Regions from separate parts of the Homo sapiens genome. Here region 1 is linked to region 2. The links come from fine-mapping of genetic effects on gene expression. A gene starts in region 2. The other region holds a variant in brackets. All regions are shown on one strand. Distances are from middle to middle.

Region 1 (4,385 bases), 160 kb before region 2:
GGCAAGGGAACCCTTCCTAGAGGAGGTGGCATGTAAGCTGAGACCTGAAGGATGAGTGAAGATTCACTGAAGAGATGTGCTTTAAGTCTGAGAGAGACAGGCTCAGATTTAAATTCAGAAGAATCCCTCTAGCAGGCCATGGAGTAGAGTGTTTTACCCTCAAATGCTCATGCATATTGGCTCCCAGTGCTCCCTGAACACTTAGGGTCAGGCAGCTGAGTGTGTACTTCATCAGTAAATCTTGGGGAGAGGGAAGCCCCTTTTCTAACCCTCATATACATGTTATGAGGATTAAATAAAGTAATACATGTAAAGAATTTAGCTCCATGCCTCTTTCATAGTCTGTGTGCAATTGATGGTAACCACCACCATCATCATCATCGTTGTTGTAGTTTTTAATTCTTTAGTAACGTAGGAACTTTGTTTCCAAGAACTCTCAAAGTGTGATTTGGAGGTCAGTTAGGATCTTCTAGTATCTTCACAAGGTTCATAAGCAAGAATCCTGCAGTGTTTACATTTAAACCAGGACAGTGACTATATTTCTAAATCTAACCATAATCAATAACCAATTTAGGATAATTAATAGAAGCAAGACATCTTCTCATGGCTGCTTAGTCAAAGCATGACCATCTATCACTTGGGAAGCCTCTTCACAGGTAGTGTCGGGCGTGGGGTGGTGGGATGCATGGTGACTGACTGGAACTTTTTAAGTATGAGAACCCTCTGCAGTGGCAGAAAAGTATTTGCAGAGCAATACTTCTGTTTCTGGAAGACTCAAACAGAGCTGCAGTACAGAAAAAAAGACTAATAAGTGAGGGTGGCACTTGCTCAACCAATTATACAGAGTGAAATTATGAGGCCCTCTTGGACCACACCTCATTTCAAAGATCAGCACTGAGCTTCTGCCTCACTTCTACATTAGTCAGGCTGCAAATACTTATGGAGCAGCCCTACAACAAGCCAGGTGTGCTCATAGTTGTGGGGATATAACAGGAAGCCTGAGAGAGCCCCTGCCCTCAAGGAGCATGCATTTCACACTCTGCAGTCCTCCTCTGGCCCCGATACTGCTTTATCACATGGCATTTTCACAGTGGATACTTTTATTCCCCTTTCTACGGATTAAAAAAACTAAGGCATAAAAGAGGCTAAATAGCACCCCAGGTTTCAAAGCTCATAAGAGAACTCAAACCTGGCTCTATCTGACCCCAGAGCCTGTGGTGTGAGCTCTACCCATCTTCCATCTTCATACTTAACGACTGAAGAAATCAAGCCATTTACATTTCTGCAAGGCCAGCAAGAGAAAAATCAGTGGATGTAGTAGAGATGTAGTAAAATCAATGGCCACATATCAAGTGTCTACCACATACCAAGCACATCCTAGTCTCTTTAATCTGTTTTTATTTTAAGCCACCTTAAGGAAGGTGATGTTATTGTCCTTTCTTTGCAGATGGGGAAACAAAGGTTCCAAGTCACTAAAGAATTAAGCACAATAACAATGAGAATGATGATGATCAATTATACCAAGTGAGCACAAACTATGGGAAAGGCCTTACTTATTGTATTTAATCCCTATAACATGTATGTGACTAGGTACTTTTATGTCAATAACTTTAATGCCAAAAATAGATGGAGAAGCTGAAGTGTGTGAAGGTTAAGTGCCCAAGGCCACACTATAAATGGAGCAGTCAAGACTTGAACTAAGGCAACTTGGCTTCAGAGACTGCACTCTTAACCAGGCTGATGCCCCGTCAGGGACAGGACACAGAGGCAGGGCTTCCCTGCTTGACAGGCTACCAGAAGCCAGAGTCTTGGGGAGATGTAGATGGGCCCAGGCCTGCATCTGCAGTCTTCCAAACAGCCCCCTGGAGGAGGTTCTTCCAGCTCTAGGGAAAGGTCAGAATTTCAGTCTCATGTTTTCACACATCTTAAATGGATTTCAGAAGCACTGGGGCTGCCCCAGCTCCTCTCTTTAAACAATGTGGTTAAGCTGTTGTAGCGTTGCTAGAGACTGCATTCCTCCTGCATTGTGATGTGGTTTTTGGCAGTCATGCATGCAGTTAGCTAAACCAAACTAAGCTGTTTCATTAATGGGAATTTCAAGAGAGAAATTGTGAGTAGAAACAAGGCAAGTTTGCTATCCAGCCCTAATTCAAAAAGCCACATAATTAGGTAGGTGGGGAAAGGTAGTGTCCCCTCAGATTCCTAGAGTGACTCTCTCTCGTTTTTCTTTATTAGGTGGTGGTGGTGTGTGCATGCTTATGTGCATTTGTATGTGTGTGGAGGGATGTTGGGAAGGAAGTCCCAGCAAAAGATCTATTACCCTGGACCCTCTGGGTAAGCTTTCTCTGTCGTATGAAGAGCATAATACTGACTAATCGGTTTCAGCTCTGTTCAGCTTCCTTTTACTTCCACCAGTTCTCTTCTACACAGCCCTCAGCAGCAGCTCCAACCCTTCACCTCTCTGCCTACTCATCCCTCTCCTCTGACTT[C/T]GGATCCCACCTCAGCATGAACCCCGTCACTCCCTGAATCTTTCACCTTCATGGAGAGGAGAGCACATTCCCTTTGCACTTCCTTCCCTCTTCATCTCTAAAGCCAATTGTTCTCCTGTGCCCTGTATCCCAGTAAGAGTTTGCTTGTCAGTGCCCCTACAACTGCCATGGCTCCTTCTTTCCAGTGTGATAAACATGTCCAAGTCATGTGTATTCTAAAAAACAGTCTTCCCTCAACCCTCTCTCTCTCAAGCCACCGTCCCACTCTTACTCACTTGGCTTCACCACTAAACATCTTGACACAGTCTGCCCTGTTAGTCACAGCCAAGGATCTCCACTCCCATCACAGCCAATTCCGGCTTTTCTCCCCTCCTCTACTAGCAGTCACTGCTGCCGTCTATTATAATTTTCAGACCCAGGGGACCTCTTCTTCCATTTCCTAGCCACCTCTAAGCAAGGAAGGAGGAGGAGGCTCAAGGTGACCTCTGAAGGGGGAGTGTTGGTATTGAGTTCTCTGGCGTTTTCTCAGGGAGAGCCTGGAGTTGCAGACAAAGACATTTTTCATCTACCAAGCTGCATATTTTTACTTAGATATTTTAAAAAGCAATATCGAGCTCTGAAAGAAAATGTAACATTGATGCCAAATCAGATGAGAACTAACACTTGGTATCAACAGGAATATATTTGAATTTAAAAAGGCTAGCTGCATCTGACAGCAATGTGTCTCAGCTACTTAGAGGCTGAGTGGGGTGGGGGTGGGGGAGAGAAGAACATTTCATCATCCATCCATCCATCCATCCATCCATCCATCCATCCATCCATCCATTTCTTCCACAGACATTTATTGAGTCCTGATTCAGGGCCAGGTTCTGTGCATGGCACTAGGGAGGCAACAATGAATAAGACAAAGAGAAGGGTGTAGAGCAGTGGTTAAGGGAATGCACGTTGGCTGCTTGAAGTGCTCCACCCCTCCTGAGCTGTGAATCTTGGGCAATTATTTAGCCTTTCACTAAGGGTTCTGATTTATAAAATGGGGCTAATAATAGTAGTCACTTCATATGTGTTTTAGGAGGACTGTAGCGGGTTGAATGGAACTCCCCCCACCCCCAAAGATATGTCTAATTAGAATCTGTGACTTTGACCTTATTTGGAAAAAGAATCTTTGCAGATGTTATTAAGGATCTTGAGAGGAAATCATTCTGGATTAGGGTGTGTGCTAAGTCCAATAACAGATATCCTTTTAGGGGAAAGGGAAAAGACACAGAAGAAAAGGTGATGTGAGGGGAGATGGCAGAGATTGGAGTAACGCGTCTGTAAGCCAAGGAACACCAAGGCTTGCCCACAGCCTCCAGAAACTAGGAAAGAGGCATGAATCAGGTTCTCTCACAGAGCCTCCAGGAGGAACCAACCCTAATGACACCTTAATTTTCCACTTCCGGCTTCCAGAACTGTAAGAGGATACATTTCTGTTGTTTTAAGCCACCAAGTTTGTAGTCATTTGTTACAGCAGTCTTAGGAAAACCAACACAAGGATTAAATGAGATGATGTGTATAAAGTATTTAGAACCATTCCTGGGACATAATGAGCCTTCCATAAATGTTTATTAAGATGGGGGGTAGGTGACAGCTAGGGTGATAGTCTATATCTTGTGACTCATAGGGAGGCAGGGAAGGCTTCACATCAGAAGTGACATTTAGGCTGAGTCTTCAATGGGAGGTAATTCCAGAAGAGAAAAAAAGCTTAGCACTCAAGATACGTGCGGTGTGAGTTGTTTAGAAAGGAACTGACATTTTCAGGAAATGATGAGCATGATATTTCAAGACACTTTATAATTTCTATGATAGAATGCTATTGCCTATCAACTCCCAGGCCTTGCCAGAGAAGCTTACTGGAAG
Region 2 (4,385 bases):
TTCCTCCCAATTAAAAAGGTGAAGATACCTGGACATAAGGTTTTCTCAACTGACATCATGTTTTTAAAATTTGTTTCCATAGCGACATTGTTAAGAAGACATACTGATATTTCTGAAGACTTAAGAGTACTTCAGAACACAGAAAAAATTAGCCGACGGAAAGGGAAAGGGGAAACAAAGAAACTGAAAGAAGGCCTAACATACAAATGGAACGACCTGAAGAGAAATGGAGAACCTGGAGAAACTGGTGTTAGCCAGTCTTAGAGTTCCTCTGAGATCTTGCAGGATTATTCTTATTATTTTTTATATTTGCAGAAATCAACTCAAATCAGACAATAAAGTCTTGCAATGCATCAAAACATGATGATAACCAAACCCTAGAACTCAAAAAAATCTCAGCTTAGGGCCATCACCATCTTCACAAGGAGGAAATCACATTTCCTGGTGACTTTCAGGAGACCTGGAGCAGCTTAAAGTTGTGTGAAGACCTCAGTGGAACTGTTTTAAGGTTTTTGCCTTGCCTTTCCTGAAGGAGGTCAAAACCCTTCAGGTCCACTCAAAAGGAGAAAAAAAATTCCAAAAGTTTACTTTAAAATGGAAACAAACGCCTCAATAACTTGTGAAAGCACTCTTTGGTGGAGAAAAATCTGAGGAACCCTTAAAAGCCCTCATTTCCTTGCATAATGAATAGACAGTGAGGAACCACCACAAGGTTTCCCTCTGGAAAGAGAGAAGGAGTAGGCAAGCAAGCCTCCTCCTCCTCCAGCCATCACCAACAGAGCTTCAAAATGGAGACATCCATAATTTTATAAACACTTCTCATCTCAGCTTTGTCTCCTGGAAACCCGCTCTCCTCCATTTTCTGGTGGAGTTACAACATGACACGGCTTACCTGACTCAGTTCCCAGCTCTTAACCAAACTAGTCACTTCCTCCAAAAACCTGCAAGCAACCTCCAGAAACAAAACCAAAGCAAACCAAACAGCCAACACAGACACTCAGACACAGCCCCCGGGAGCCCTGGGAGAAAGCCCCAACTGGTTGGTCTTTCCCCATCCCAGACGCGTGCTTAAAAATGAAACTTTTTTTTTTCTTGGTTGGGGAGGAATATAAAAGGAACTCCAGGCAGCCTCCCTCCCTCCCTCTCTGTAGGTTAGAAGCCACAATGAAAAGAAAACGAGGGTTCCTTCAGGAATGGTGAACAGCCTGGAGAATGAACGTGAGAAGGAGCTTTGTGTTTTGGAGTCTGGACTGGAACCAAAGCAGACAGCTTGCAAATGGAGGACAGGGAGATAAAGAAAGGGAAAGAGGGGCTGCTCCAATGGGGGGCGGCTGCGGCTTCCCCTCGTGCCTGGAAGGAGGGCAGACCCCTGGGAACTGCACCAGGAGTGAGACGCCCCCCCAGGCCCCTGCCTTCCTTTCTCCCTTCCTCAGAGGAGAGCCAAGCGTGTGTAATGGCTTCTCCTCTCCAGAAACCGTTGTCCTCCTCCACCAGACGCTTCTGAACCTCCAGCCTGGAGACAGCTCCTCAGCCGCTCCTGAACCTGCGCCCCCCACCCGGCCGGTGCCCCCCGCTCCTCGCCTCTCTGTTCACCAGCAGCACCGGCACCAGCAGCTGCAGCAGCCACCCCCCGACACATCCCGACCCCGCATCCCAACTTCGGGGAGAGGGAGAGAGAGAGAGAGAGAGAGAGAGAGAGAGAGAGAGAGAGAGAGAGAGAGAGAGAGAGAGAGAGAGAGAGCCAAATACCTGAGGAAGAGGGGGGCTGCCAATCCGCACGGCTTTGCCATCGGGCGGGGGACAGGCAGACAGAAGGGGGAAAGGAAGGAGAGGGACAGAGAAAGAAAGAGGTCAACCCGCTCAGGTCGGGGCCGCTCGCACGGAGCTCTCCCTCCTCTGACCCTCGCTCGCTCCCTCTGGCTCTCGGCTCAGGTCTCCGGCCTCCCGCCCTCCGCCCCCCTCTGTCCCTACTCCTGTCCCCACACTCGGAGCATCCGTCCTAAGCCTCCAGCTCTCTTCTCACTCATCTTTCATTTTCTCTTCTCTTCATAGAACTACACGAAATTAATTAAGCCACCGCGCTCACTCCCCCCAGCAGGAGCAGCAGCCAGCAGGAAAAGCACAGCCACCTCCACTGCCACCACTACCACCTTCTCCTCCTCTTCCTCCTCCTCCTCTTCCTCCCTCGCTTCTCCTCCTCCTCTTCCTCCTCCCCCTCCTGCTCTCCCTCCTCCCCCTCCTCCTCTTCTCTCTCGCTTCTTCTCCTCTTCCAACAGCCAGTCCATGCAGGGGACTTCCTCTCCTCCCCGCTCCTCCAACCCTCCTTGGCCGAATGAATGAGCGCGTTTGTGCCTCCACCACCCCGCGCTCTCTTCCCCGGAGCACTCGGACCACCCCGAGGTGGTTGTTAATTGCAGTAACTTACAGAAGAAGCGTCCCGGCGCCGGGAGGTGCTTCGGGTTCTCCAGCCCCACCGCCTCCTTATCCTCTTTCTCTTTCTCCTCTTCCTGCTCGGGTTATTGTTGTGGAAGTTGTTTGGGAGTCTCATGTGCTTCTGCCGGGTCTCAGCAATGGAGGATCGCCATCTTCCCTGCCTTCCTCGGCTCCTCAGACTCGCTGCAGCTGCAGATGACCTGAGATATCCGTCTCTCTCCCTCTCTCTCTCTCTCCCTCCCTCCCTCTCCCTCTCACTCTCTCTCTCCCCTCTCTCTCCTCTTCTCTCTCCTCTCCTCCCTCTCCCTCGCGCGCTCTCTCTCTCTCCCTCCCTCTGTGTCTCTCTCTGAATAATGAGCAACCAGGGGGAGAGAGAAAGCAAGACAGAAAGAGAGAAGGAAGACAATCTTCTCCTGCCACACAAAACGCCGGAGCACCAGGGGGTGCGCGAAGCCTTTCTAATAACAACAACAACGTGCAGCAGAGAGGAAGGAAAAAAAGAAAGAAAGAAAGAAATGAGGAAAAAGGCTAGGGGAAAAAAGAGGAAGAATTATCCAAGAGCTCGAGAAGAGCAGAAGGAGAAGCTGGAGGAGATGCTGAGGCTGCTGCTGCTGTTCCCCCTCCCCCCTGCTGAACCCCAGAAGGAGGCAAGGTGGTTGCAAAGTTAAGGCTGGGACATTGTCTTTGTCACTCAGAGCCAGGCCAGTGAGATGCAAGAGGAGGAGGTGGCGGCGGCAGAGGAGGAGGAGGTGGTGGTGGAGGAGGGGGAGGAAGAGGAGGAGAAGGAGGCAAAGGAGAAGGAGGCAAAGGAGAAGGAGAAGGGGAAGAGGGAGATGAGATGATGAATAAAGACCTGCGGAGAAGGCGGTGCGAGGAGCGCGGCCGCCGGGCCGAGGCGTGCGCGCTCGCGTCCCGGTGGCGCCCGGCAGCCCTGGCCCGCAGAGGAAGCCCCCGGTGAGGACCCTGCCCGGCAGCTCATAGCGCTCCCAACGTCAGCCCTGCCCGAGGCGCCGAGCCCGAGCCCCAGAGGGTCCCTTACTTGCATCCATCTAGAGGCCAACCTTTGCAAAGAACATACGTGGGGAACTGGAGGTTGCAAGTATAAACCCAGATCAACCACGTGGGGCTTTTTAATCCCTTTCCAGCTTGCGGTGTGAGTATTTCCAGTGAAAAGCTCAAATTGTCCATTACTGGCACGTATTTTGAAGTCTTCTCTCCTGAAATAAAGGCTCATTGTGCGTTTTATTTCTTTCCTGATATGGAAGGTGGGGGGGTGGAGGAGGAAAAGAGCCCATCATTCCGAGCTTCGGAACCACCACTTTCTTTTCCTAACTTGTGAAATGTTTTGACTGCGCACCAAAAGAAAAAAAGAACGCCTGCTTAAATAACTTTACACCCTCCAGCCCCGCGTTGTTTGCACTTTCTGGCTGATCATCTAAAGGCTCGGAAAGTAACAATCAGCGCTCTTAATGATAAGGTGTCATGGTGTTGAAGACACGCGAGCCAAGATGAAGCTTTCACACCTTGAATTTTTATTTAGTGTAATCTCTCCCGTATCATTCTGAACTATCTCTTTTGCAAAGGAGTGGTTCCCCCCCTCCACCACCAGGTCGAAAGTCTCCTACGGTTTTAATTGGACTGGGAGCGGTGGGGGTTGGGGATGGGGGTTCTACAGTATCAAAAAAATCAATGCAGCAAGTCAGGAGCAATTGAAGTTCAAGGGCATGGGCTGATTGTACCATTTCTATTTCTTGGATCTTGGAGTTGGACATCAACAGCCTCAGGAGAGAGAAACGCGCAGCGCGCGGGGCAGAAAGAGACCTTAATTAAAGTTTCTTTTGTCCGCGTCTGAATTGGGGATGTTGCTGGATTCCTTTGCATTGAGGAGCGCGCATCCGGTGAAGGCGCGGTGTTAAGGATCCTGGGCAAGTCTGTCCTCTTTAAATACTCGC

Evidence for each region. PIP is the estimated chance that this variant, and not a neighbour inherited with it, causes the effect. A credible set is the group of variants that fine-mapping cannot tell apart.
Region 1: its variant is the best candidate, but not a certain one, in a credible set for the expression of ZNF462 in lung (TOPMed, PIP 0.74).

Annotation. Positions count from the first base shown.
Region 1 is chr9:107,017,797-107,022,181 of GRCh38, reverse strand. The region is part of intron 4 of LOC340512 (a long non-coding RNA gene); the gene reads left to right. Among named protein-coding and RNA genes, the nearest start is that of ZNF462, 160 kb to the right of the region's middle. The variant C/T (reference allele first, on the strand shown) is at 2,490.
Region 2 is chr9:106,861,396-106,865,780 of GRCh38, reverse strand. ZNF462 (zinc finger protein 462) reads right to left here and starts at 2,615. Exons shown (of 13, transcript NM_021224.6): 1 at 2,426-2,615.